5 separate regions of the Homo sapiens genome follow, and regions 2, 3, 4 and 5 are each reported to be linked to region 1. The links are microRNA targets in miRTarBase. Many come from high-throughput screens and were not tested one by one. Region 1 holds a microRNA gene; each other region holds the end of a gene's coding sequence. Distances are between the middles of the regions.
What was found. The annotated mature microRNA hsa-miR-548av-5p reads AAAAGUACUUGCGGAUUU and lies in region 1 at 2,274-2,291, shown strand. An mRNA with a match to its seed (bases 2 to 7 or 8) in the 3' UTR can be bound and repressed. Matches are read on the target gene's strand: a 7mer-m8 pairs with bases 2 to 8, a 7mer-A1 pairs with bases 2 to 7 and ends in A, and an 8mer does both.

Region 1 (4,544 bases):
AATGCACTGACAGAAAGAGTGGGGGCTCTGAATAGTGGACTCACCTCAGTGGGCCTCTCTTTGGTTTGGAATGTTGGTCCCTTCATTTGTGGCTGCCTTGGCATCTCTTTGATGCCTGCAGACTTTCAAGTCATACTCACCTTTTCTAGTTTTTGGTGGGTTGCCGGGCTACAGGCCACCCCGCGTATCACTGAAACTGGAGCTGAAGCGGGCGTGCTCTCTCTGTCTGCAGCATATGCGGAGTCTGGAGACATTGGTTATCATTACTTGATAGGGAGCATACAGAACCCACTCACCTCGCTTAGGCTACCTTGTCCAGTTTCTTTTTTTTTTTTCCAGTCTGCTTCTCATGACATTGTCCAGTTTCTAATCAGAATCCCCCATTTGCCCCTGCCCAGTCACTTAACCACTTAAAGACAGTAGAGCAAGTGGCCTGCCCAGCGGGAGACACAGCCCTTGGCCTCCAATTCCCGTCTTGGCCACTGTGTGGGCTGTTCCACCCTGCTGTAGTCTCTACTCTTCCCCATGCCCTGTGTCAGACCGAGGGAGGGTTTGTGATGACATATCTGGCAGTGGCAAAGAAGGAGGCTAGGGAGGTAGGAGAGGTTGTGTGCGTGGTGTTTAGTCTTACTTTGGAGATGGGGTCTTGCTGTGTTGCCTAGGCTGATCTCCAACTCCAGGGCTCAAGCCATCCTTCTGCCTTGGCTTCCTGAGTAGCTACCACTACAGGCATGAACCAGTGTGCCCAGCTACCTAATGTTTATTCTATGACTTGATCCCATGTATGTTTCCTTTTTGAGTGCTGATTTTTTTTTTTTTTTTTTTTTTTTTTTTGAGATGGAGTCTTGCTCTGTCACCCAGGCTGGAGTGCAGTGGCGTGATCTCGGCTCACTGCAAGCTCCACCCCCTGGGTTCACACCATTCTTCTGCCTCAGCCTCCCCAGTAGCTGGGACTACAGGTGCCCGCCACTACATCCAGCTAGTTTTTGTTTTGTATTTTTAGTAGAGACAGGGTTTCACCATGTTAGCCAGAATGGTCGCGATCTCCTGACCTCATGATCCACTGCATGCCTTGGCCTCCCAAAGTGCTGGGATTACAGGCGTGAGCCACCGTGCCTGGCTTTTTTTTTTTTTTTTTTTTTTTAAGAAGGAATTTTGCTCTTGTCGCCCAGGCTGGAGTGCAATGGTGCGATCTCAGCTCACTGCAACCTCCATGTCCCAGGTTCAAGCGATTCTCTTGCCTCAGCCTCCTGAGTAGCTGGGACCATAGGCGTGCATCACCATGCCCGGCTGATTTTTGTATTTTTAGTAGAGACGGGGTTTCACCATGTTGGTCAGGCTAGTCTTGAACTTCTGACCTCAGGTGATCTGCCCGCCTCAGCCTCCCACAGTGCTGGGATTACAGGCATGAGCCATCATGCCTGACCGACTGACCGAGTGCTTTTTTTTTTTTTTAAAGCAAATATTGCCTTTGGGCTTCTCTCTAATTTCATTTTAAAGTTTCAGTTGCATTTTCAAATGGAGATTTTATTTTAAACTGGAGTGCAGTGATTTTTACAGTCTTTTTGAAAGCAACAAATGAGATTTTTAGAAGACCTCTTGCTTGAAGAACTCTTTTGTGTGAAACCTAGAAGAGAGACTGTTCACCTTTCATTGCAGGTGAGGTCCCAAATTTTGCCAGTCTCTCTCCCAATCTGCCAATCCCTGAAGCAGGGGGTACAAAACTCAGAAGATTCTAAGGAATGAGGTCTTCAAATCAAATCCAAACTTAGTGAAAAAGAAGTCTACCTGTGTCAGGGGTGTTCCCTGTCAAAGTGATGGGTGAGCTTCAGCTGGTTGCAGTGGAAGGTGTGCTGGATGGATTGAGGAGGCGAGAGGGTGCAAGACAGCCCATTTAGGAGGCAGTTCCTGCAATGTGGGCATGAAGTGTTACAGCCCAAACTAGGATGCTAGAATCCGAGGGCAGAGGGCAGTAGAAAAGAACAACCTGGCGGAATTGTGTAGGACTAGAGGATGACAGCCGAGTGGCAGATACCAGGGTCAAGCTTGCGGGGAGAAGGGGGACGGGGGTGGGGGAGAGTAAAGAGGAGACGCTGGTGTTTGGTGGTGTTGAGAGGTATTTGTGGTTGTCACAGCTAGGGCAGGGATGCTCCTAAACATTCTGCAGTGGAGCCCCCTCAACAAAGAATTATCTGGCCCCAAATGTTGGAAGTGTCCAGGTTTAGGTATAAAGAATCAGAAGCTTTTCTCAAGTATTGCTGTTAGGTTGGTGCAAAAGTACTTGCGGATTTTGCTTTACTTTTAATGGCAAAAACCGCAATTATTTTTGCTTCAACCTAATATGATGCAAAATTGGCTACAACTGTAATTTGTTGAGTGCTGCAAACAAGGTACTTGCTAAGCTTAACTTTAGTGAACAAATTAGGAAGAATTGGAATAAGGTAAAACTAGCTAAATGACTCTTCCCTGAGAATAAATACTAATGACTGCCCCTTCAGATGGTGCCCCCTCATCTGCTTTACTGACTGTTTCTTAGTAGTAGTTGGCAAAACACCTCTTAAAATACCATACTTGTTTTCATCGTCTTTGGTGTATGAAATAGTTGAATATATCCTTTCAGAATAATATTTGGCCATTTACATCTCTCTTTTGCACACACTGAATTTGCCATCTTGTCTTCCTGTTCCTACACCTTTAATTGTCAGCAAGGAGACAGAGTCCTTCCTCCTATTTTGTTGAGCCCTGTGTGAATATTACCGTTCTAGGCTCCTGCAGTCAGTGGTAGAGACAGGGTCTCTGCCTGCAGAAGACTTTCACAATATACCCATGCTCAAAGCAGGTGCAGGTTGCGAGACACATCCAGATAGAATGAAGTGGTTCAGAAGAAATCCATGATCTCGACTGAGTGGGGTGGGCTGCCAGGCACACTGTGGTCCAGAAAGGTGAGGCTTTCGAGGGGATTGGCTTAGAGCTGAGGGATGAAGGCTAAGAGGAACCAGGTATGAGAGCTTTCTTGGCGGTGGGGCTACTTGAGCAAAGGCCAGAGCAAGGGAGAGCTTAGCATTTAGCTGAGTCAAAGCTGGGGTCTGTGGCCATGGTTACTTGGCCTGGAGGGAAGGGAAGAGTGAACATGGTAAGGTTGGCTAGGTAGGTTGGGATGGGATCAGACAGAGGTGAAGACTTGCTTGTTTTTGTTTTAAGTACCTTAGGGCTTCAGTACTTTGCGTGCATCGTGGCCTCAGGGGAGGGAATGATGTGATTTAGCTGCGTTGTTATTTATTTATTTTTATTTATTTATGTATTTCTTTATTTAAGATGGAGTCTTACACTGTTGCCCAAGCTGTAGTGCACTGGCATGATCTCGGCTCACTGCAACCTCTGCCTCACAGGTTCAAGCGATTCTCCTGCCTCAGCCTCCCAAGTAGCTGGGATTACAGGCGCCCGCCACCGTGCCCGGCTAATCTTTAGTAGAGACGGGAGTTTCACCACGTTGCCCAGGCTGGTCTTGAACTCCTGACCTCAGGTGATCCTCCCTCCTTGGCCTCCCAAGTTTTTAAAAGATCATGCTATGTGGATAATGAGCTGGGGATGGAGGGAAGAATGGACCTAGGGTGGAAACCACTGGTTAGAGTAGAGCCACTTCAAGTGCATGGGTTTGGGCTATAAAGTTAGTGCTGTGAGCAAAAATTAAAAACTCTTGCCGGGTGCGGTGGCTCATGCCTGTAATGGGAGGCCGAGATGGGCAGATCACGAGGTCAGGAGTTCGAGACCAGCCTGGCCAACATGGTGAAACCCTGTCTCTACTAAAAATACAAAAATTAGCTGGGCGTGGTGGTGCGCAGCTGTAATCCCAGCTACTCGGGAGTCTGAGGCAGGAGAATCGCTTGAACCTGGGAGGTGGAGGTTGCAATGAGCTGTGATCGCACCACTGCACTCCAGCCTGGGGGACAGAGTGAGACTCTGTCTCAAAAAAAAAAAAAAAACCTCTTAACATCACCCATCACATAAGGCACAGAACAATGTGTACTTTTTAATTATCATATACATAAATGCATACTGTTTTCATGCAGTATACATAATGTTTATGTATATAGTGTATACATGAATGTATTCAGGTATTTTGAGTGTCTGTATGTGGCATGCACCGTTCTAGGTGCTGAATATTCCATAGGTAAAAAGGGTTATTTAGCCCACATTTTTTTCGTTGTATGAAGAGAAATGGAAAAAACCAAACTTACATAGTTCGGTTTGAGCAAGTTAAATGCATGGATGATGTAATGTGGGAGCACTTTCCACTTTTCGTTGATGTTTGTGTAGGCAGAACTAGGGAGGTGGTTTTCCTTGGGAGTTTCAGCTGCCCACTGTACTCCTCCACTCTTGGCCACTGTGCCTCGCAGGTGCCTTACCTGACTGCCATGCTGTGTACTTTCATTTGGGCAGGCTTTGGGCTCCTTAAATTCAATATTGGCTCAAACCATCTTTCCCCCGCATCCGTACCCCATCCTGTGAACGGTAGTTTTCTACGTAGTCAGGTGGCTATGTCT
Region 2 (4,000 bases), not on the chromosome of region 1:
TTGACTAGTATCCAATTCCTGAAAACAGTTGCTTCATATATTTTGTCCAGCATTAACTGTTGTTTGGGGTAGCAAGATAAGTCCACTTAAAATTATAGCCGGAAGTGGAAGTCTATTCATCCCTATTTTCTATTCAAATATTTAGTTTTGTTTCGGTTAGTTAATTCTTAATACAGCTGTGGTTTATTTGCTCAAACCAAAAGCCCAAGAGAAATTTCATTTAAAGGTAATTTGAAGGATACAATATCTTAGATATTCTTCAAGATGCACTTATCACATCACAGTTTCATAATGCTCAACACTTCTTAAAGTGCTTTCACATGGAATAATTTTCACGTACCTAAACTATTGGCCTATTAGGTATCTGGCTTTCTGGTGAGGTACTTGTCATGTTTTCCATTGAATTATATATGGATTTTTTTCCCAATTATGTCCAGAAATGAAATATATTCCAAGATCCCTATGAGAAACTTAAGAAATAAAGAAACTCCCATTTATTCTAGTCTGGTGCTGTCACTTTTTCAAATTTCTTAGCCTACTTCTACAGCAGCTAAGAATTGGGAGATATGACAATAGACAGGTCAGTTGAGAGAAAGTTTCCCAAATCAATACAGCCACTTACTTGAATCTGTTAGCAACCGTATCTTCTCTTGAGATGTGTTTTGTACAAGGTGCTATGGACTATTTCTAATTTCATTGTGGTAGGCTTCCCTTCTCTTCATTTTTCTCCACTTAACCTGATCTGTCAGGTTGTAAACAAATTTGATTTGAAGGCATGTTTGCTTCTAATAGGCAATTCTATAGTACAGCCAAGAAGGCAATTCTATATACAGCCAAGAAGGATATATGTTGCTGGGGTAATTTTTTATAATTAAAAAAAGTATAAACTTAAAAAATTGGTATACATAGGCAAACAGGTAAAAATAAACCTTTGTTTCCTTCCAACAGATACATAAGCTCTGAGTATTCTAAGCATGTGTAACAGAATGCTAAGCAACAGTCAAGCACATACTCAACTAATAACTATGGTCTATAATATTTTAGGTATTGTGTGTCTTGTAAATAGTAAAATCAAGTAATTCTTTCAAATGTGCAGTGTTTAGATTTGAAATGATTACAAGCACCAAAAAAACCCATGAATTAAAATACAATATTTTATTTTTGTCACCTAAAAAACAAGCAACCCAGAATTAAGATATACGTAAGTTTCTCAAATTTATCCTAATAAAATTTTGAATATTTATACAATTTCTACAGAAACATACAGTGTATCAAAATCTGCATAAATCAAATTTATAAAATGTGTAGAAATGCATAGTGATATTACCAACTTACAAAGCAAGGATATGGGAATTATTTCCAAAGCAGCCTACAGTAGAAAATAGTCATTATGGCAGCAGCTTCTGATGTTTTTGTTTGGTAGGTTTTCTGATTTCAATATATAGAATCATATTCATAGAGTATCTTCTTTTAACGAATTGCACAAAGTACCCATTTAAAATTTACATGCACAGTTCATTGCCACCTTTCTTAGGCCTATGCATAGTTAATAAGGTTATAATCTACTCAACATGGAAAATGGAGCCTATTTGCAAACACACAAGTAATTAAAGTACCAATTCTCTCTTAGTTTCTTTTTTTATAGTTGGTTTATTTTGCAATTATAAATGTTAAACATCCCTAGAGATGAAAGTTAAAATGGTTGATCACAGATCAGTAGCAAAATACAAATTGACAATTCAAAATTATAAATAAAACTCTGTTGAGGATGTTTAACTTTGAGTCTCCAAATTTAAGAGCTAAGCTTGGAAGAAACAAATTTATAGGTTATATTTCCCTCTTAAATTAAAAAACAAACTTCCTCTGGCAGTAGTTTGTGAATTCCTTTCATTGTAATGATACCATGATTACAGGATCAAAAATGCTTAACTTACTTGCCATTCTGCTCACATCATCACAGTTGTTTTTTTTTTTTTAAGCACTCAATGTAGGCATTTTAATCTTCTGGATAACAGAGTATCTTTTGAGAAATTAAAATCGAATTGACCATTTGCAATATTTGGTTTTCCTAATAGGTACTGTCTTAGTAAATGTTTAAATCCAAACAAATCTTCTGTTCACCGGAAAAATACTAATAAAAATACACTTTCTAAAAAGAAATTAAGAAACACTAGGGAACACCTAATGTAACAGAAAGTAGTTCACGTTTGTTAATAAACTGTATTTTTAAATAGTCCTTTGTTTTTAAATTTTAAAAACGTGCAGATAATGTCATTTGGATGAAAATATAAATGAAACATCAGTTCACTCTTGGCTTCACAGGTTGCACAGCTTAGGTTATAATGCACACAAGTTTTATAAGGCCTAATCTAACAAGGGCTTGGAAAGTCTTACCTCAGTCAGAATGAACCTTTGATGTGTTTATAACGGTGTTTTGTTGTTTTTGTCACCCTCGCTTTCAAGGGATAACAATAACAACTGATAATAGTTTTCTGTATTGGCAGGTATTGGAGAAAAGTAAATCCCAAATGTCAGTGGACAATTTTTCTCTAGTTGGAAGACTCCTTTGCAATCCTAGAAGTAGGTATGGACAGAGGGCACTGGGAATGCCAGTAGGTAAGGGAGTGAATGCTACACAACTTCCAACCCTATGGGACAGCCTTGGGATGTTCCATATTGTCATTTCTTTTTCAAGCCATACAAAGTTCAACTTTATAGCAAATGGCAGCACATAAATTCATTTCTGAGTAGTAAAAGTATTCCCCATACAGGTGACAAGTCCATCATTACCATCCTATAGATTTCATCACAAGCTCTTGAAATATATACTGAGAAATGAAAGAGGCACTAAATGTGTTGAAATTCACCTTTCAAAAAAGCAGCATGACTGTGAAGGAAGGCCACCTTGGCTAATAACCTGTGGCAGTGCTTCAAAAAGATGTAAAATTAAATAAAGACACAACAGGTTGATAATCACCAAGTTATATATGAAAGTCTGGCTACTCCAACCTTTTTTCAAGTGTGTTAAAAATAAAAATCAAACTGCCTTTCAGACCCCTGAGTGTAATCCCAAAGAAGACAACATGCTTTAACTCTGTCTAATAAAACAGAGCTAAAGGCACAAATTACCAACATCATCTTAAAACACAACAAAAAGATGTAAACATCTACAAAGTTTAAGGTAAAAGCAGTCTTGTAAACAGTAACTGCAGATGATAATGTTATTGTAAAATCACAGTTTATCAATGTCCTTCAAACTGATCAGGAGGTTCCAGGTTTGGAGCTATACAGAGTTAATAACAATAGTTGCAGCAGGTTTCAGGCGGTTTTCAGTCCTGTATAAATTTACTTGTCAGTAGGTAGGTTATTGGTTTATTTTTTTCTCTCTAAACACTATGGATGTTATTCATTTCCCATTTTTGAGTCGTTTTACTGGAGTCACAATTGGAGATGAATACTTGATGCAGGACCTCTGAGCGATCTAAACACTTTCCTGAAGGAATATGAGTAAATCTGTGCAGGTTCTGGAAAACACAGTAAGAAAAAAGTTTCAAATTTGGACCCTTGATATCACTGACATCAGAAATCATCACTTGACTTTCATGAGGAGACAGTTTAAGGAAATGGAAAAGCTTCTCAACCACACCTCAGACTTTGGATTTCTCTTGATTGTCAGTTTTCTGGATTTCTCTTGATTGTCAGTTTTCTAAGTCCTAAGATCTTTCATTGTTAAGTCACAATATACTGCTGGTATCTCACACTCAATGTATACAAACCTAAATTCATTATCTGCCCCTCCAAATCTATGTCTCTTGTTCCTATCCTGGCTAATGACATTCCCAGCTCTCTAGTCCTTAGGAAATACTGCACTTTTCCTCATTCACTCACATACCAGTCACTAAGGATGGATATGTGCAATGTCTCTGGTTTATATTCCTTCCCATCGCCACTGCAGATGCCCTGGTTTGGCCCTCACCATATGCTGTAGGTTTCTTCAATA
Region 3 (4,000 bases), not on the chromosome of region 1:
CACCACGTGGATTACTGTAACGTGTGTATCTAAAGGTAAAAGCATGGCATAAGTATGAATTTTTTTTTTTTTTTTGAGACAGAGTCTCGATCTGTCGCGCAGGCTGGAGTGTGGTGGTGCAATCGCGGCTCACTGCAACCTCCGCCTCCCAGGTTCAAGTGATTCTCCTGCCTCCGCCTCCCGAGTAGCTGGGATTACAGGTGTGCGCCACCACGCCTGGCTAATTTTTGTATTTTTAGTAGAGATGGGGTTTCACTATGTTGGTCAGGCTGGTCACAAACTCCTGACCTCAGGTGATCCACCCATCTCGGCCTCCCAAAGTGCTGGGATTACAGGCGTGAGCCACCATGCCTGGCCCCAAGTATGAATATTAAATACCACTGGTGGTGCCTTGAAGCCCTTTCCCATGGGGATTGAAGAAAAACCACAGTTAAGACTCAAAGTAGGGGACAAATAGCTTGGTTGTAGGCCATTGACGTGATCCCTGAAAGATTGTTTGAACAATGTTACCCACAACCATCCAAACTTATTAGGAAGGATAAAGATTTTCTAAAGCTATATTGAGGTGAAGAGAAGAGACTATTCCTCCAACTCAACGTGGGGATGAAAAAAAGGTAAAAACCAGAGTTTACAAAAATTCACTTTTAATATTCAAATGAAAGCAACCCCCTTCTCCTGCCTCTCTGAACATGGCCAGCATTTCAGACACCCTACCACCTCCCAGGCTCTGGCTGCCTGATAAAAAAATCCCAATTTTTGCCAAAACCTCAAATACCACAAAACACTAAAAGAACAGATGTGAGCAACTTATTTAAGTTCTACATTTAGTAGCTGATGGACACATAAGGCTTTCAAGAAGACACTCTTCTCTTCACAACATATTAAATAAGTCCTAGCACAACTGACTGCTTCCAAAACTACCACCCAAGCGTGCCACCACTCTTGGCTGAACAGAAACTCTTCCTCATGACAAGGGCACTATGCTGATTTCAGCAGAACTGAAGGACCACGACTCTCCCAGAATATCTGTATTTTTACCTCTCAGACTTCTCCTGCAATGTCCTAATGATCATGTAAATAGTCTTCAATGAGAAACAGGACATCAAACCTTCCAAACAGGCAGAAAATGCTCTGCTAATACCATGGGAGAGGGTGATCAGTTTTTGGCAGAACAAAATGGCATCACCACCTTAGTACTGAAATTAGTAGGAGTAATAGAACAATTTCTCCTCAAATATAATGGCTAGGATCATACCTAAAACCCACTGGCCTCTACCATGAGTGAAAGAAAAGGAGACAATAGGCTTGATTGTACAATCCCCTCAGTATACGTGTGTCAGGTACACAGAGAAAAGACTGCTAACCAGTAACGTTTCAATACTAAGAGAAGCTATTAATGTGGCAAACAACCAAGAGGTAATATCTAGTTTCTAGGTTTAAAAAAAAACAATATATATATATATTTATAATAAAGTTTTAAATACAAAGTGCTTTTTATATATCGAGAATGATACAGTGTTGTGAATAAATCCCTGTTTGTAATCTTGCTTACAAGAGTTAACTGGTAAATAAGTATTTTCTTTCCTCTTTCCAGACAATGTTCAACAAGTAAACACCCTGGTGTTAGGAGCTTGAGAATCAGAGGCCATTGCCAGCAATGTCTATTACATTACAGCAAAGCCAAACTTTTCAAATAAAATTTCACCCCAAATCCAAGAAAAATTATTTTTATTTTAAGAAAAAAAAGTTTCTATTTAGAAGTAAATAACCCAGTACGATTGTGGAAAAGATGACATGGTAGTAGCACCCTGTCCTACCCTGGTGATAACCTCAGGTATGTTACACAGCTTAAAAGCATGTGCAATATTACCTTTCTTTTTAACCTAAATCATCTAACTGATGGGCAGAAAAGGTCTCAGAATAGTTGCTTTTCTTGTTTGTTTTTTTAATTTTTTTTTTCTGGTCGGCGTAGCTTTGTGGACTTTTAAGTTTAAGCAGCTTTATCTATAATGTGGGAGCATGGTTCTGTAGACTACCTTGCTAAACTTAGGACTCCTTTTACAAACACATTCCAGTGCTCATAAAGAACTGGTAGTATTAGCTCAGTGTACCCTCTAAAGAGTATCTCCCCCACCTTGAAAGAGTGTATTCTCAAGATTCTTCTTGGGCAGTTTTGTCCCCCTTAAGTATAACCACTCATAGAATCCTGCCTATCTGCCCTCTCACTCTGGTTGGTGGAGTGTCACCTTAGCACTCTATGAACTACTCAAGTTCACAGGGAACTCTCAGCCACAACTTGTGGCTCCTTCTCACTAAGTGTGGTCATGGACCACTCTCTTTGTAAAGCACCATAATCTAAGACAGAGCAGGGGCTGTGGCAGCCCGTGGTACCGTGGTCAGTCACAGCAGCTTGGTGTCTACCAGCCACAGAGAAGACCCCACTGTATGGAGGCTACAATTAACCAAACAGGATTTGGGAAAGCAAACCAATGAGAAATACCTATCTCTGGCACCCTAGAGAATTACAATTAGATAAAATTGTCCAAACTCAATGTTAGAACTAAAATACAAAACACTGCCTTATCAAGAGTCTGAAACACCTTGTGACAGTAGTGGCATCTTACAGAAACTGACAAGGGCACTATGTCAGCCTTGTACCGTAAATTATCTGTTTCATATTTAGAAAGTCACTCTCTTAGCATCTCCATAGTTTTAGTTAAAATATCCTTTAGAAAGACTAAAACCAGACAACAGAGCTCTGTTAACCAATTTCTCATCCTAGGAATCACATTATTTCTAGCTTTTATATAAGTAGCACTTCCTTCAGTGAAATAGCTACCAAAACAAATCCACATTACCTAAGTATCTATAGCAAGAGCAAAATAAAATTTCAGCATGACCTTGTAATAATGAGTGATCCAAAGCTGCTGCCACCCAAAATGGAACTGGTGGGTGGAGTCCAGTTCCAAGTGCAGGTGTCTCTGTCCACCTGTTTCGATCACAACCAGTCAGAAGGTTTCCCTTGCCAGCTGGGCGGTGGGTTAACTCACCCCATTACCCATTCCAGGCCAGGACTGGAACACACAAATTTGAGGAATTAGATTTTTTTAATTGGCCTACTTAGAGCTGGTCTTTCAGAAATATCTTCCTTTTTTTTTTTAAGCTTCTCTCATAATAGCAAGTAGCACGCATCATCTGTGCCCAGATTTGCATTAATTACCATAGTTTATTTTTGTGCATGCCACTCAAGGGCCAGATCCTATTTTTAGTTAGCCTCAGTTGTATTCTGCTCAGCCTTTGCAGCTTCGTAGGACTTAGTACAAGAAGTCACATGCCGGTGGAAACTGTCCCTCCACATAAACCTCTTTGCACAGATATTACACTCATACGGCTTTATGCCTGTGTGAATTTTCATGTGGCCCACGAGATGGTGCTTCATTTTGAATTTCTTACCGCAGACCCCACAGCCGTAAGGCCGAAGACCGAGGTGCATGCTCATGTGCCGATCTCTCTGACTCTTGTGAGTGAAACTTTTCCCACACTGACAAGGATACAGCTTGTCAGTGGCTGAGAATCCTAAGTGGGAAGCTTCTTCTTTAATCCCTGTTACCATTTCAATATTCTCACTGTAACCTGCTGCGAGGGCAGCCTCCTGTCTGTGCCCAATTAGATTCCCATCTGACCTCTCTCCGGAAAACTCTTCCATGGAAGAGCCATAGAAATCCACCTGCTCATCATAATTGCTTTCATCAGCCTGTTCATCAAACTCAGCTTCCACTTTCTTCTCCCCGATGTGGAAGTCCTCCTCCACTCCCGAAGGCTGCACCGTGTGCTCTGTCTGCACGGTGTTGATGGACTCTGTGACCTGGTGCTCGTCGTAGGTCGCGTGCACATCCATGCCCTCGCAAGCCTGTTCTAAGCGCTCGGGCTTCACGTGGATCCAGCGTTTGTGAGCCATGATGCTGGGCTTGCTGTACATGGGCCGGGTGTAGTGGAACTC
Region 4 (4,000 bases), 42 Mb from region 1:
TATGGCACATTCTAATGCAAAATGAAGACCTAGAGCTATTCTGAAGGATATACTGTGGCTTATTAGGGACAATAATAAATTTTCGTTTAGGTGACAAGGTACTCGGCCTTGATTAAGTCTTTTATCGTGATCTAGTACCGAAATAATAGGCTTTTCTGTGCCACTTGAATAAAATATAATCCTTACTACAGATTAGTTTATTTATTTTAATCACATTTAGTACCATTAGTAAATTCTCCCAAGTGATAAAATTCTTTTTTTTATCCCTTGTTTTTCAGATCTTCAAAGCTGCTGCGGGCATTCTATGTCCCCTTCCTGTCAGATCAGTATACAGTGTACGTAAACTACACCATCCTCAAACCCCGGAAAGCAAAGCAAATCAGGAAGAAAAGTGGAGGTTAGCAACACACCTGTGGCCCCAAAGGACAACCATCTTGTTAACTATTGATTCCAGTGACCTGACTCCCTGCAAGTCATCGCCTGTAACATTTGTAATAAAGGTCTTCTGACATGAATACTGGAATCTGGGTGCTCTGGGCTAGTCAAAGTCTATTTCAAAGTCTAATCAAAGTCACATTTGCTCCCTGTGTGTGTCTCTGTTCTGCATGTAAACTTTTTGCAGCTAGGCAGAGAAAGGCCCTAAAGCACAGATAGATATATTGCTCCACATCTCATTGTTTTTCCTCTGTTCAATTATTTACTAGACCGGAGAAGAGCAGAACCAACTTACAGGAAGAATTGAAAATCCTGGTACTGGATGGCTGTGATAAGCTGTTCTCCACACTCTGGCCTGGCATCTGAGAACTAGCAAGCCTCTCTTAGGCCATATGGGCTTCTCCACCAAAGCTGTTTGGCAGCTCCTAGCAGACCTTCTTATTGAAATCCTCATGCTGAAAATGAACACAGCCTAGTTGCCAACCCACATGTCCTTTTCACCTCCAGCAAGACTAAGCTTCTTTAAAGCACTTCACAGGACTAGGACCCTGTCCTGGAGCTATCTCAGGAAAAAGGTGACCATTTGAGGAACTGTGACCTAATTTTATTATAATGATGCCTCTAATTTTCATTTCCTTTACAACCAACTGTAACTATAAGGTTGTATTGCTTTTTTGTTCAGTTTTAGCATGCTATTTTTTGAATTCTAGACTCCTCCATGTGAAGATATCAACAGACAAAACTACAACTGTATAGGACATATTTGGAGAAAATTCTATCAATTGATACATTTGGATGACATCACATTTTTAAGTAATGTAATCTGAGGCCATTGCTGAGGAAATTAAGAATTTTCCTTTTTTTTTAACCACCCCCAGTGAAAAGGATCAGTGTATATTTATAGCACCTATTTTTTAGTTCTGTCTGTTGTGAGGCACATCCTGCATGGGGCACTTCTAGTCAAATAGGCAATGATAAGGACCTAATTAAAATGTGATAAGTGTATACTATTACTTTAAAAGCCTTTACAGTCAGTACTTCAGTTTACAAGGCACTTTCACAGCATCTCGTTTGATCCTCACAGTCACAACATGTGGTAGACAAGGCAGGTGATTTTTATCCCCATTTTACAGATAAGGAAACAGGCTGCGGGTGGGGAGTGAGGGGAGGTAAAGATAGTTAGTTGCCTAAGGTCACACAGCCAGTAAGTAATAGAGCTGGGACTGGAACCCAGGTTTCCTTACTCTCATCTATTGCTCCTCCATATTCCTCACTCAACCATGAAAACATTACTTGAAAGGACTGATGAGGTTAACCAGAGACCTAACTGATATTGTAACTTTCTATTTTAAGGAAGAATTGTGTCTGTATTTGAGTTCTTTGGAGCCTCCAGTCTGCCTGTGTGTTAGACCAGCACAGCAGTGCTGTGTGATGCAGCCTGACCTGTGGCAGGAAAGTAGTGCTTCTGTTTGGAAGTCATGTTCTTTTGCAGCCACACAGGATCCAAATATCAGTACTATTCCTGTAGTCAATCTGGGGTCACATTATAGGTGCCTTATTTCCCTAAGGGTAACTGATCTGAATATCTGCAAATAGGATGAATCTATTTTTCAGAAGTTCCATCTTTCATTTTTCTTTTTTTTTTTGAGACAGAGTCTCATTCTGTCGCCCATGCTGGAGTGCAGTGGCGCGATCTCGGCTCGCTGCAACCTCTGCCTCCCAGGTTGAAGCAATTCTCATGCCTCAGCCACCCGAGTAGCTGGGATTACAGGCATGCGCCATCATGCCCAGCTAATTTATGTATTTTTAGTAGAGTTGGAGTTTCACCATGTTGGCCAGGCTGGTCTTGGACTCCTGACCTCAGGTCATCCACCCGCCTCAGCCTCCCAAAGTGCTGGTATTACAGGCGTGAGCCACCGCACCCAGCCCCATCTTTCATTTTCAAAGAGAAGGGCATTCTAATAGGAACTGGTGCCAAGAGAGAAGAAAAGAAGTGATAACAGAAGAAATGGCTAGTTACAATATTAAAAAGCTCCTCTTTGAGATCTCCTCTGCAGGAATATCAGAGACGGAGTTGAAGCGCTGGAGAGGTAATAGGTCTAGACAGTACAGAACAATAACTGGGGAGTGTGTGAGGATAGACTGGGCTCCCCCTTGCTTGAAAGATCTCTGGCATTTAATTCTCAATTCTTGATTACTATTTTCCAGTGTAAAACTAGCACATATGATCTGACTACAGGACAGAGAATTTTAAGTGAAACATTTGCCTTACTTGCAGTAATAATGTGCTGTTCTTCACAGTAGCTAAGGCCCTCTATGTTTCCCAGAGGTAAATAAGAATCCAGGAATGGAGGTCCATCTGTGATGAATGGCTTTTTTCTAATCAAAGTAGTATAATGCTGTTTTATCTGTTTTGTCATCTTGTTTTTTTTTTTTTTTAAAAAAACAAAACCTTAATTATAATATAGCGCAAAGAAAGGCCAGGACTGATGCAGGGATTCCTTGGAAATATCAGTTCCTATCACTTTTAAAACCTGATTTTGGATCTCTCTGTTCTATGTATGTCTTTAGTGAGAGCACAATACATGGCAGAACGCTGTGCCAAATGTTATAGGTAAGGAATATAGAAATGAATGTTTTTTGTTGTGAAGGTGTTTTCATGTGATATTTTATAAACACATTTTAAAAAATCTCCATCACTTTTTAGTATAGGAAGGATAGCTTTGCCTGGGAAAAACAGTTTCAACACACCTGCTCAGAGTAGCAGTTCTCCCTCAAAAAAGCAGTGTTCAGCCTGCACTGACTGTTCTGCTTGCCAAAAGGAGGAAGCATGCAAGATACTTATTTCTCCATAGATTGTGGAGTATAGAGGGATGTGGGACTACAGATTATTATTTTTTTTCCCCGAGACAGAGTCTTGCTCTGTCGCCCAGGTTGGAACACAATGGCACGACCTCAGCTCACTGCAACCTCTGTCTCCCGGGTTCAAGCAATTCTCCTGCTTCAGCCTCCTGAGTAGCTGGGATTACAGGCACACACCACCACCGCACTCAGCTAATTTTTGTATTTTTAGTAGAGGTGGGGTTTTACCATGTTGGCCAGGCTGGTCTTAAACTCCTGACCTTGTAATCATCCCGCCTCGGCCTCCTAAAGTGCTAGGATTACAGGCATGAGCCACCGCACCCGGCCCAGATAATTTTTAATAGCCTTTGATCATGGGGTGAGTGAGGGAGTAGGTATACTTGGCAAATGCATGGTTCTCTGATTTCTAGCTCTAAAGCAGCCTTATCTGAATCCCCAAATCTTGTGATGCTGAGTACCATTACTGAACCAGTCTGCACGGTAGGCATCTGCTACCAAAATTTACCTCCTACCTGGTAGGTGTCATCTGATAAGAAAGAAGACAGGTTATTTTAATTTTTTGAGATAATCACAGAAAATTGCAGCCCATACTCTTTATTACCGAATTCAAGTTTGGAAATAGACCCTTTGTTTTAAATCATGATGGGTCTTTATCCCAATCATTTATCTGGGTCATTTTTCCAACTTTGGAGTTCTAGGAAAG
Region 5 (4,000 bases), not on the chromosome of region 1:
ATAAGAAGTCATAAAAAGAGGAAAATCGAACACACAGAGACAGTGGGGGTGGGTGGAGAAAAAAGGCCACGTGGGGACACAAGACAGTGTCTATCTATCAGGCAAGGAGGGGCCTCAGGAGAAAGCAAACCCACCAACTTGCTCTCAGACTACCAGTCCCCAGAACTGAGAAAATAAATTTCTGTTGTTTAAGCAACTTGTCTGTGATACTTTGTTATGGCCACCCTAGCAAACTAATACAATAACATAAACATCAATGTATATTAAAAATGTTTTCTGATAGAAGATATTATAATAAAAACTTGGAAACCACTGATCCACTTACCTAGGTTGTAAATGATTTCCTCATCCGCACACAGAAGGAACTTACAAGTTAAGCCCTCAACAAGCAAATGAACTTTTTTCCTATTTTCCATTTAATTATAAGCTGATCTCTTTCATTAAAGGAAGTTAATTTCTGGCTTTCTTTTTTTCCCCCCTCAAAAAACAGGTATCTATTATTCTGTTTCTGTAAAGATAAAGGATTATTGCTATTTTGATAACCTATGCCATGCTTAATTGAAAATTTTAAAATATTTGAATTTGTTCTTTGGATCAGTTGGAATATACTTCCTGATAAATTAATAAACCATTATTAGCAGAATCTCAGTTGCAAAGCATATTCCACTTAGCAAAAAAATTTACTAAGTAAAGCCAAGGATGATAAAGTTTATAAGCTACAGCTTTATATGTATAAACAATTTAGCTTGTGAATAGCTTTTGCTACCTAGAAGCATTTGATTTCTTTAGTTGTATTCTGCAGGTGAACTGCTCCACGATGTTCACAGGTTTTACATATTAAGGGAATTGTAGTCTTAATCTGGCATTTATAAAAGCACTTAATTTTAAACTTGCAGAAAACATGGTACTTAAATAATTTATACAATATTATAAATTTGCCTCCCTCACTACAAAAGTAAGCCAAACTACATTTCTTTCTAGTGTTGTTTCTATGCATAGTTTTATATTTGAAGTCAGTTACATACAATATCATGTATACTACGTAATATGCATTTTACACATAAAGGCACACAAGAGCCTCTTTTAAATACATAAAAACATATCTGTTGACCAACAGCTTTAACGCAAGACAGACATCAAATCCTCTAACATCATATGGTGAAATGCTATTTGTAGCTGCATTTAAAATCACAAATTCTTTCCCACATACATAAAAACTTGCAGAGAGAAAAAAGTTTTGTGTGTAAAGTATCAAAAAAATGCATTATTTTAATCTACTGATTTAAACTGTTTTTCAATAATCATATTTTAAAATCTTTACCTATTTTATTACCCAAAGGAAATCATTTAAATCTACCAATTGAAAAGAGAAACAGAATATTGATATAAATTATTTTTATTGTGTGAAAATGTCAAAATTCAGAATTAAGAATAAAAGTATAACATATAACAAAATAGGCATTTAATTGTTAAAATACACCTGGATTTACAAAACATTTTTTAAAATGTTTTTAAAATGCTTAAGGAATAAAAATTAATTTTTGAGAGAGCTATATAAAATGTGAATTCTATATTATATTTAATTTCAAAATCATTTATTTTTATTAAATGAAGCCAGTAGCTACACTATAGTAAACAGATAGAAAACACAAATTTTAAAAACACGTATACTCCCAAACGAGATAAATATTAAAAAGATAGCAAAAGTATGAGTTTAGTTTTAAAATTAAGTAAATGTTACAAAAAGCTATGCAATTTTCCCTCTAAAATCCTTTTCAAAGTTTACATTGTCTTTTCGTATTGCTTTTCATCACATTTCAGCCACCTCTCAAATTTAGGTTGTTACGAATTTTAGATCTGAAATCAAATGCTTTTACCTCACTCAGTGTGGTTGCTAAGTCCCATGTACAAACTCCAAGAATATATACAGTGCTGACTAGAGTACAGGTGACCTGATTATTAAAGTTCAGTGAGTTAAAAAATGTGAATAAAATCTGATGTTCTGAAGTACAATTTTTAAAGTAAATAATTATATTAAACGACATAAAATGTACTTAATGTTATCAGATACTAGCACATGTCTGTTGTGTCAGTACAAGTTACCAAAAGCACCAATCTTAACAAGGTGGTATAAAAATCATTCTGTTTATACTATTTTCATTGGATATAAAGGTTTGTTTTCAATTAAATGTAACATTATGAATCTATTATTAAAAATATACATCTAGAAGTTAGTCTAAATGCCAAATACAGAATCTTATGGATGCCATTCTTAAGTGCAAGAGAAGTGCTATCATTTTAAATTAAGAAATTATTTTGGAATTATTTATTTATAAAAGTAATTTTGGGCCAACATTTTTATTCTCATTACTTTAGTACACAAGCTGTTTCCCAGTTGTAAAACAGAAGTCTCTGGACCTGCAGTAGGTTTTCCAGTTTTTCTGCCTTTAATTTCATAGTTTAATTTCAAGGCATGAAAGAATTAGAATCACCTAAAAGAGTCACTGCAGCTTCTGATGGAACAAGGGAGTATAGGGAGCACCTTGATCTCTGAAAGTGTCTAACCTTTAAAATAGGACTTTACTGAGACTTTTAATAGTATCTCACAGAATGTATTTTGATTAATTTAAAAAACATTTAGGTACAAAAGGTATTTCCAGTCTCATTGAGTACTGTTTTCAAATCATGTAATTGTTAGAATAAAGATCTGAGAATCTACTACTTCGAAAATATATTATTTTTAAATTAGGTCAAATTACGATGTACACTTAAAGAACAACGCTATTACAAAACATACCTCAAGCCATATAAATATATCCTGTTTGTATAGTTCATGTCTGAAAGTAAATCAACTCTATTTTCCAGATATAATTTAAACAAATCATCTATAAAAAAGGTGTATAATCAATATCACAGTAATTAAAATTTTTAAAGATTTAAAAAAATATAAAAATAGTTTTAAAATTTTGGTTATAAATTCCTAGAAGTCCCCCTTCTATGTGCATATATCTTACAAAAAATATTTAATATCTAGAAATATAGGCTATTGAACAAATAGTAAAGAAAGTGCTGAGTCCATTGGCTCTTTTTGTAAAGTTTTCCTTCAGAAGTATGCTCATGAGTGGGGATGTATAAACCAGAGTCAACAGTAAATCTTGCTAATTTGGTCCAAATGCTGATTTCATGTACTGGTCATTGTGCTTCTTTTATTTTTTTAACCATGAAAAACACAAATAAGTAATTATCAAGTCAGGTCCTTGAGTATTAATCTTCTCACTAAAATTATTATGGTTATCTTGCCCCAGTCATCAATTTACAAGATGTTTCTTCTTCTGAGAAAGAAGAATGTCCCAGTTCACCTTGCTGATATTAAGAGAACTCCTCCATACGTCTTGTTTATGAGATCACATCATGAGCATCACTGTTAGGTCGCTGTGGCACAGCCAGGGGAGGCAGTGGCTTCCTATAGAAATCTAAGAAAAGAAAGAAAACCAAATGCACAAAACAGTTATGGTACATCAAGATTTTTGACACAGTTCATTATTTTTTAGACTTTAGACATTTTAGACATTTCCAAAGAGATAAACTTACAGAATCTTGACATGCCTCTCTAAAAGATTTCCTTCTCTCTCGTGCATTTTAAATCTTAAGAGATGGCACCAACATTCCATCCTGTTGAGCCAAATTATACTCTATTCCTTTTGCCTTCAATCCACACATGCATTAATCACATATTACTTATTATAATGGTTAAAATATTCCTTCCTTATGTTATACTCTCCAATCCAATTTCCATTCCTTACTTCTTACTTTGACTACTGCAATAGCCCCCAAATTTGGATTCTTACCCCAAATATAGCCACTATCAAGTTTGTACTTTACATTGCAACAAAAAATGTTTTTCTAAGCACCAAATATAATAGCATTTTCCCTTTTAAAAATAAAAGCATTTCTTTAAAAGTTATAGCAAGTTAAGACATCTTACCACATATATGAAGCC

Region 2: miRTarBase lists GALNT7 as a target of hsa-miR-548av-5p. Seed matches in the 3' UTR shown: 8mer at 1,609-1,616 and 7mer-m8 at 1,485-1,491.
Region 3: miRTarBase lists ZBTB43 as a target of hsa-miR-548av-5p. The part of its 3' UTR that is shown has no 7-base or 8-base seed match.
Region 4: the mRNA of ALG9 is a reported target of hsa-miR-548av-5p. Seed matches in the 3' UTR shown: 7mer-A1 at 1,447-1,453.
Region 5: the mRNA of ARL13B is a reported target of hsa-miR-548av-5p. Seed matches in the 3' UTR shown: 7mer-A1 at 2,018-2,024 and 7mer-A1 at 1,245-1,251.

The regions. Positions count from the first base shown.
Region 1 is chr11:70,281,713-70,286,256 of GRCh38, forward strand. It overlaps MIR548K (microRNA 548k), which reads left to right and starts at 2,243; the gene lies at 2,243-2,358. The region is part of intron 2 of PPFIA1 (PPFI scaffold protein A1); the gene reads left to right.
Region 2 is chr4:173,321,104-173,325,103 of GRCh38, reverse strand. It overlaps GALNT7 (polypeptide N-acetylgalactosaminyltransferase 7), which reads right to left. Exons shown (of 12, transcript NM_017423.3): 12 at 1,137-3,524. The coding sequence ends at 3,387. Among named protein-coding and RNA genes, the nearest start is that of HMGB2, 11 kb to the left of the region's middle.
Region 3 is chr9:126,833,179-126,837,178 of GRCh38, reverse strand. It overlaps ZBTB43 (zinc finger and BTB domain containing 43), which reads right to left. Exons shown (of 3, transcript NM_014007.4): 3 at 1-4,000. The coding sequence ends at 3,266. Among named protein-coding and RNA genes, the nearest start is that of ZBTB34, 25 kb to the left of the region's middle. RefSeq lists enhancers at 3,472-3,971, 3,972-4,000.
Region 4 is chr11:111,782,799-111,786,798 of GRCh38, reverse strand. It overlaps ALG9 (ALG9 alpha-1,2-mannosyltransferase), which reads left to right. Exons shown (of 15, transcript NM_024740.2): 15 at 279-4,000. The coding sequence ends at 402. Among named protein-coding and RNA genes, the nearest start is that of PPP2R1B, 18 kb to the right of the region's middle.
Region 5 is chr3:94,052,660-94,056,659 of GRCh38, reverse strand. It overlaps ARL13B (ARF like GTPase 13B), which reads right to left. Exons shown (of 10, transcript NM_001174150.2): 10 at 982-3,473. The coding sequence ends at 3,397. Among named protein-coding and RNA genes, the nearest start is that of DHFR2, 8.3 kb to the left of the region's middle.